Homo sapiens: one gene and its partner. Each later gene encodes a partner of the first gene's protein in a complex. Each region holds a gene or a part of one and is shown in the gene's direction. Other genes may lie near its edges.

Region 1 (3,748 bases):
CATGCTAATCTTCTCCGTATCATTCCAATTTTGGTATACGTGCTGCCAAAGTGACCACTCGATTACCTATTCCAATATAATGAAACCCTGTTTCTACTAAAAATAAAAATAAGATAAAAATAAAAAAAATAGCTGGGTGTTGTGGCGCATGCCTGTAATCCCAGCTACTCAGGAGGCTGAGGCAGGAGAATCACTTGAACCTGGGAGGCGGAAGTTGCAATGAGCCGAGATCGCACCACTGCACTCCAGCCTGAGCGAGAGTGAGGCTGTCTCAAAAAAAAAAAAAAAAGGAAATAGAACATTGCAGGTAAAGTTAAAGTCTTCTTTGACTCCTCTTCTCAGTTCCATCACACTCCTTTCTACCCTTTCTTGAAGCAATAACCATCAGGATATGGTATATAGATCCTTGCAGTCAATTAAAAAAAACAACAAAATACATATATCCAATAGCCAATATGCTTTTGTTTTATGTGTATTTGTAAAAAATATACATAAATGACATTATACTATATATATAATCCCTCTAGATAAAGTTACATATAGTGTTAGGTTTTATGTATTAATTTTTGAAAACAGGGTCTTGCTCTGTCTCCCAGGCTGGAGTGCAATGGTGAGATCATTGCCCATTGCAGCCTGTAACTCCTGGGTTTAAGGGATCCTCCTACCTCGGACTCCCAAAGTGCTGGGATTACAGGTGGCCTAGACTTTATAAAGCTGTTATCACCTCTTTCTTCTTTTCTCAACACTATCCTTTTGACATCTATCTAACCCTGTTGAAACAGATGACCGTCATTCCTTTTAAATGTTATACAGTATTAAATGTTGTGCACATGCGTGAGGCATGAGTTTAACTCTGGGGCCTCTCCCTAGAAATGGAAATCCGGGGTCACAAGCAATGGGCATTCCCGTTTTACTGTTAGATTCTGCTCTCCCGCCAGCAGCGTCTGAGAGGTGCTTGGGGTTCCCCTGAGGGTTCTGGGGGAGCTCGGACTTGCGTTCCCAGCAGGCCGGTTGTCGCCTGCTTTGTGCCTAATTTGCGTCACTGGGGTTCCTAGCGGACTCGCCTGCAAGTGTGCTCAGGACTGCAGGGAGGACTCTTCGGTCACTGCGGCTCTCTCCCCATGGTGGACTCTTCTGAGGCGCTTGACTGCGCTGATTTGGGCCTTTATCTGTCTGCATGTCGGCAGGGGCGCCCAGGAAGTCGGGTCCCTCTAGCTCAAGCTTGTTTGGGCTCTTACAGCTTCAGGCCAACAGGGGGCTGGGAAGCTGAGCACTTACTCATTCCGTCCCCGTTGGTAACTAGGGCTGGTAGACGCGTCCAGACTGCAAACAGTATTTCATCATTTTGTCTGTAGCATGCAGCGGCCAAAGCTGCCAACCTATGAAACGCTTTGAGAAGCCGGACGCTTTGGGAGGCCGAGGCGGGTGGATCCCCTGAGGCCAGCCTGGGAGACATAGTTAGATTCTGTCTCTCAAAAAAATTTTTAAAAAATTACCCCTGATGTGGTGCGCGCCTGTAGTCCCAGCTACTCGGGAGGCTGAGGCGGGAGGATCGCCCGAGCCTGAGAGTTCGAGACCAGCCTGGGCAACGTAGCGAGACTCCGTCTCTTAAAAAAAATAAGTAGCCGTTTTTCTGGGTGGGTGCATCCCTCTCTGGTTCCTCGCTCTCCAACTGGCCCTGGTCCTGGGGGCGTGAAGGCTACGATCTGGAGAGACAGAACAGCGGGCTGCCTCTGGAGGACGGGCCTAGACCCCATTCATTCATTCATTCGTTCTGTCACCCACCCGTCCTGCGCGCACGCGAGCCACCCTAAGCCCCAGGACCTCAAGAACCCCCACCCCACGGGGCACAGACAAGGACAGGCTGGCCAGCGCCTGGAAGCCGCGTGCCTGACCACGTCTGCCCGAGCGAGTACCGCCTCCCACCCGGGAGGCAGGAGAGCCGCGACCGTCGGGCCGCGCCCAACGTCTCCCGCTCAGGGGCGCGCCGCCTCGCTTTCAGCGCATGCGCGCCCGGGAGCCCGCCCGGGGCGTCGGCGCACGCGGTCCCCACCGGCCGGCTTGCGTACGCGCTCCCGGCTCGCCCTCCCACGCGGTCCACCGCGCCTCCCGCCCCACCCTAAGCGCAGCGACCGCCCGAGCGGCCGACCGAACCGCGTTGCGTGCGTGCGCGCACGCGCGGGCCACGTGGGCGGGCGCCGCGCCGTTGCCCCGCCCCTTGCAACCCCGCCCCGCGCCGGCCCCGCCCCTGCTCTCGCGCCGGCGTCGGCTGCGTCTCCGGCGTTTGAATTGCGCTTCCGCCATCTTTCCAGCCTCAGTCGGACGGGCGCGGAGACGCTTCTGGAAGGTATCGCGACCCGGCGGGCCCGGCACGGCCGGGCGGGGACAGGGGTGGCGGCGGCGGGATAGGGGTCGGAGCCGGGGCCAGGGCCGGGGCGGGTGGCGGACCCAGGGGCAGCGGGCGGCTGAGTAGGTGGGTGGTGCGGGCCCGGCCGGGCCGGGGCAGGAGACGGGCGTGGGGTCGGCGCTAGCCCCCGCGAACCCCCGTTTCATCCTCCGCTCTCATCCCCGTCCCGGTCCCAGTCCCGTTCCCATCCCTACACCTCCGGCCGCCGTTCCCCGGGCCCCGCCGCCCCGGATGCCGGCCCCGCCCGCCGCCTTCCCGCTCCCAGGCCTGGCCGCCATGGCGCCGCGGGCGGGAGGCCTTTGTGGGGCGGGCACGTGGGGCGCTGGGGGCGCGGGAGCGGGGCCGCCATGGGCTGCGGGGCCGCGCGAGCGCTCGCCTCCGTCCTCTGCCTCCGCAGGAACGCCGCGATGGCTGCGCAGGGAGAGCCCCAGGTCCAGTTCAAAGTAGGTAACCCTGCGGGGCGGGAGGCGGCCGAGCCCGACCGCGTGCGACTCGCGGGTCCCTCCTCCTGGGGCCACGATGGCTGTAATGGGGCCCCGCATCCACATTCTTTGTTTTAAGTGAGCCTGTGGTGGTTAAAGTTCCGTGACTCTGGGATCTTGAGAGGTGAAGTGTTTAGGGTTTACTTCCAAAATGTGTTTTTCAACAGCTTGTATTGGTTGGTGATGGTGGTACTGGAAAAACGACCTTCGTGAAACGTCATTTGACTGGTGAATTTGAGAAGAAGTATGTAGGTATGTGCTGGAAAACCTTGCTTGTGGAAATATGTGAGAAATGGGTAAGTTCATCCACTCAATCGCATCGTTTCCGTTTCAGCCACCTTGGGTGTTGAGGTTCATCCCCTAGTGTTCCACACCAACAGAGGACCTATTAAGTTCAATGTATGGGACACAGCCGGCCAGGAGAAATTCGGTGGACTGAGAGATGGCTATTATATCCAAGGTAGGCATTTGTAACTTGCTGAACGGTTTTTGAGAGGTTTTGTGTACTTCAGTCTTCAAGGTTATAGAAAATCAGGTCTGTTCCAACAAATAGTGTCATTTTTGGGTTAAAAAAAGACAAGTGGACTTCGGGGAGTTGACCACCATTTTGGTGGCAGAGAAAATTTTATTAAAGTTGTGTCATTTGCATGCTGTGTCATGCTAGGCATGCTTTAGAAAAAACTATGACTTACACTGGGACTTATAAGTCATATTTAAAACAATAATAGGCTGTTAACAGCAGTTTCAGTATTTGGAAACTTAGGTTCATGTATGTATTTTGGTGTGGTGATCAATGAATGTTTTTACTGTATTAGAAAACAATAAACACCAGATACTAGACCAGAGGAGATAGGAGATC
Region 2 (3,748 bases), on another chromosome or scaffold:
AGGCCCTGCAGACAAATATTATGTAGCCATTAAGTACATGGGTGCTGGGCCCAGACTGCCTCGGTTCAAGTCCTGGTTCCTCGTGTCTTCATCTTACGACCTTGAGCCTCCGATTTGCCTCCTGTGAAGTGAAGCTAATGGTACTGTCTGAAGAGGGCTGCTGCGAGGCTTAGCTGACTAATGATGCCGTTGAGAGCCCGGGACCCTGCAGCCGGGCTGCCTGGGTGTGAATCTCAGCTCTGCAGCTTACCCACCGTGTGACTTTGGCAACACAATCCCCTTCCCTGTCCTTCAGTTTCCTCATCTGTGATCTGGGGATAGCAGTGGTCTCTCCCCGACGCGGCTGCTGTGACGGTTCCCTGGGGGTAAAACAGTCACAGTGCCTAGAACAGTTCCTGGCATGCGGCAGTGGCCTGTGGCTGTTCCCTGCAGTCGTCAGCAGTGCTGTCGCTCTTCCCTGCAGCCAACCATCTGTCACTACTTCATGCGCCTGCTGAAGGACAAGGGGCTACTCCTGCGCTGCTACACGCAGGTAGGCGGATGCGAGCATCCTGGGAGGAGGATGGGCGGGTGGAACGGGCATGGTGTCCTCAGCAGAGGAGCAGAGCTGCGTGCCCAAGAGCTCAGGCGGGGACTCCAGCAATGCGGGGCCAGGGCTTGGCCTACTGCCTCCTTGCTGCATGACCTGCCGTGAGTCACGTCTTCTCTGCCTCAGTTTCCCCTTCCGTCAAACAGGGGCCAGAAAAGGTTTGCCCTCTCAGGTCTGCCCTCTCAGGTCTGCAGTGCGGTGGCAGTGACCTCCTCTCAGGGCCATCCCATGTGTGATGTGGAAGGAGCCTATGGCTGAAGGGACTCTGTGTGCACTATAGGCACCCCAGATTTCACATTGGTTATGAGCGAGTTTCCAAAGTGACTTCATCTAACAAAATCCATACACTATGACACGTGTCCAACAAGTAGATGTTGTGCCTTAAGGAAGGGGCACCTTTTTATAGTTTTTTGTGCTTTGCCCAATTATAAACATGTCTCGTACACGTCAGGTGCTTAGCCAAGGGCCTCTCCCTGGGGCATTCAAGCAAGGATGGCTCACATTGTTGGCTTCTGGTTTGGAGAGTCTCACACCCCTAACAGTAAAAAAATCTTGATGGGCTGGGCACAGTGGCTCACACCTGTAATCCCAGCACTTTGGGAGGCCAAAGCGAGAGATAGCTCGAGCCCAGGCGTTTGGGACCCGCCTGGGCAACATAGGGAGACCCTGTCTCTACAAGAAATACAAAAATTAGCTGGGCAGGGTGGCGTGTGCCTGTAGCCCCAGCTACTCAGGAGGCTGAGGTAGGGGGATTGCTTGAGTTCAGGAAGTCAAGACTGCAGTGAGCTATGATGGTGCCACTGTACTGTAGCCTGGGAGACCTGGTTTCAAAGAAACAAAAAACAAATCAAAACAACAACAAAATGTTGCTGCCTCTACCTGTTTTATGAATATGTATAGAAATGACATGATGCACTACAACAGTATTAATTCAAGCTCTAGATCACACCTCAGAACCCCGAATTATAAAACAGGTGGCCGGGCGCGGTGGCTCACGCCTGTAATCCCAGCACTTTGGGACACCGAGGTGGGCAGATCACGAGGTCAGGAGTTCAAGACCAGCCTGTCCAACATCATGAAATCTGGTCTCTACTAAAAATACAAAAATTAGCCAGGTGTGGTGGTGCCTGTAACCCCAGCTACTCGGGAGGCTGAGGCAGGAGAATCGCTTGAACCTGGGAGGCAGAGGTTGTAGTGAGTCAAGATTGTGCCACTGCACTCCAGCCTGGGTGACAGAGCAAGACTCCATCTCAATTTAAAAAAACAAACAAACAAACAAAAAAGAGTGGTAACATTGAAAATAAATAAGTGTTCTAGTGTTTTCTCCCTGTACCTGCAGTTTGGCACCTGCAGCCCCAAAAGCTACCGCCAGGGGGAGGAACAACTGGCTTTAAGTTCAGATTTCTCAGGTGGGCGAGGTGTTCCCACCTGGGGCTGGTAGGAGGCAGAGGGCAGCGGAGGCCTCCTTCTTCCAAGAGGAGGAGTCCTGTGATCCCCACACTTTGGGAGGCCAAAGTGGGAGATCGCTTGAGCCCATGAGTTCAAGACCAGCCTGGGCAACATAGGGAGACTCCGGGCTCAGAATAAACCTTCTGCCCAGAGAGTCACCATTATTCCAGGACGTGGCTCAGATATGATAACAGCTTGCTTGAAGCCAAGTGCTTTTTGTGGTTGATGTCATGACACTCACCCCAAGACCCCGCTGGCCCTTGTTTGTCAGCTTCTGTCAAAGTAAATGTTCACTGAGTTGATTCCCTACAGCAGGGAGGGAGATGATGGACAAGATGGAGACACCATATACTGAGCATATAAGATGGTCATGGGTCCCTGGAACACAGTTAAGCTGGAAGGGGAGTCAGAAACGGTGTATGTGTTCGGGAAAGGGGGTGCTGTTGTAAACCCCATCTCTACGAAAAATACAAAAATTAGCCAGGCGTGGTGGCACATGCCTGTAGTCCTAGTTACTCAGGAGGCTGAGGCATGAGAGTTGCTTGAACCTGGGAGGTGGAGGTTGCCCTGAGCTGAGATTGCCCCACTGCACTCCAGCCTGGGTGACAGAGAGAGACTCCGTCTCAAAAAAAGAAAAAAAATGACACATCACATACAAACTATTATATAAAGGCCAGGCGCGGTGGCTCACGTCTGTAATCCCAGCACTTTGGGAGGCCAAAGTCAACGTCAGGAGTTTAAGACCAGCCTGGCCAACATGGTGAAACCCTGTCTCTACTAAAAATACAAAAATTAGCTGGGTGTGGTGGTGCGTGCCTGTAATCCCAGCTACTCAGGATGCTGAGGCAGGAGAATCACTTAAACCTGGGAGGCAGAGGTTGCAGTGAGCCAAGATTCCGCCATTGCACTCCAACCTGGGCAACAGAGCAAGACTCCATCTCAAAAAAAAAAAAAAAAAAATTAGCCAGGCATGGTAGTGCACACCTGTAGTCCCAGCTACTTGGGAGCTTGAGAGAGGAGGATTGCTTGAGCCCAGGATTTCAAGGCTACAGTGAGCTATGATCAAGCTACTGTACTCCAGCCTGGACCAGTAGAGCAAAATCCTGTCAAAAGAAAAAAAAAAAAAAACCATGTTGTCAAAGAATAACAGAACGCAGAGGTATTTCGGTGGTTCTTTTCCACGCTGTTCAGTTATTTGCTTACTGTTCAGTTATTTGCAAATTGCTCACTCACATGTGAGGGAGTCAGTGGGTAGACTGAGTCAAGTACCAAAGGCAAAACCAAGATTTAGAATAGTGGGCAAGGGAGGAAAGTTACAGGGCGTGTGGGAACAGTGACAGTGACTCTTGTCTGTAGGCTTTGGAGATAAGGTGGTTGCTGGTAGGGAGCCCAGAAGGCAGTTAGAGCATTCTTTCTGCCCTTGAAGGGAAACAAACCCTTCCCGTTGTTTCTGGAGTCCCTGGGAAACGCTGTCAGTTTGGCCCTGGGCCACACATGCGAGCCATCTCTGCGTAACCTCTGCCAGTGTCCTCTGTCAGCACCTGTTTTAGCGGCATTCCTCACAGGCAAACAACAGCTGCTCCAAAGGGGGTGGTTGTTTTAAGAAAAATGAGCGCGCACAAATGTCTGTGCAGAAAAGAACATTCCCACCTGTTTAATATGGAAAGTCTCACTGTCTTAAAAGAAAACAGTGGCCGGGCGCAGTGGCTC

The links. Proteins that work in one complex are often made in the same cells at the same time.
Region 2: the proteins of RAN (region 1) and SIRT2 are in contact, whole or in part, in a crystal structure (PDB 5FYQ), measured with the Homo sapiens proteins. Residues at the interface, in NP_006316.1 of Homo sapiens: Phe35 (codon at 3,123), Glu36 (codon at 3,126), Lys37 (codon at 3,129), Lys38 (codon at 3,132), Tyr39 (codon at 3,135), Val40 (codon at 3,138); in NP_036369.2 of Homo sapiens: Phe96, Arg97, Glu116, Phe119, Gln167 (codon at 530), Ile169, His187, Ile232, Val233, Phe234, Phe235, Gly236, Glu237, Ser238, Leu239, Phe244, Gln265, Val266, Gln267, Pro268.

Annotation. Positions count from the first base shown.
Region 1 is NC_000012.12:130,869,780-130,873,527, forward strand, and holds the start of RAN (GTP-binding nuclear protein Ran), read left to right. Parts: upstream 1-2,286; 5' UTR 2,287-2,347; intron 2,348-2,804; 5' UTR 2,805-2,814; coding exon 2,815-2,850; intron 2,851-3,056; coding exon 3,057-3,141; intron 3,142-3,223; coding exon 3,224-3,349; intron 3,350-3,748. UniProt on the Homo sapiens protein: GTPase involved in nucleocytoplasmic transport, participating both to the import and the export from the nucleus of proteins and RNAs. Switches between a cytoplasmic GDP- and a nuclear GTP-bound state by nucleotide exchange and GTP hydrolysis.
Region 2 is NC_000019.10:38,885,871-38,889,618, reverse strand, and holds part of SIRT2 (NAD-dependent protein deacetylase sirtuin-2), read left to right. Parts: intron 1-463; coding exon 464-532; intron 533-3,748. UniProt on the Homo sapiens protein: NAD-dependent protein deacetylase, which deacetylates internal lysines on histone and alpha-tubulin as well as many other proteins such as key transcription factors.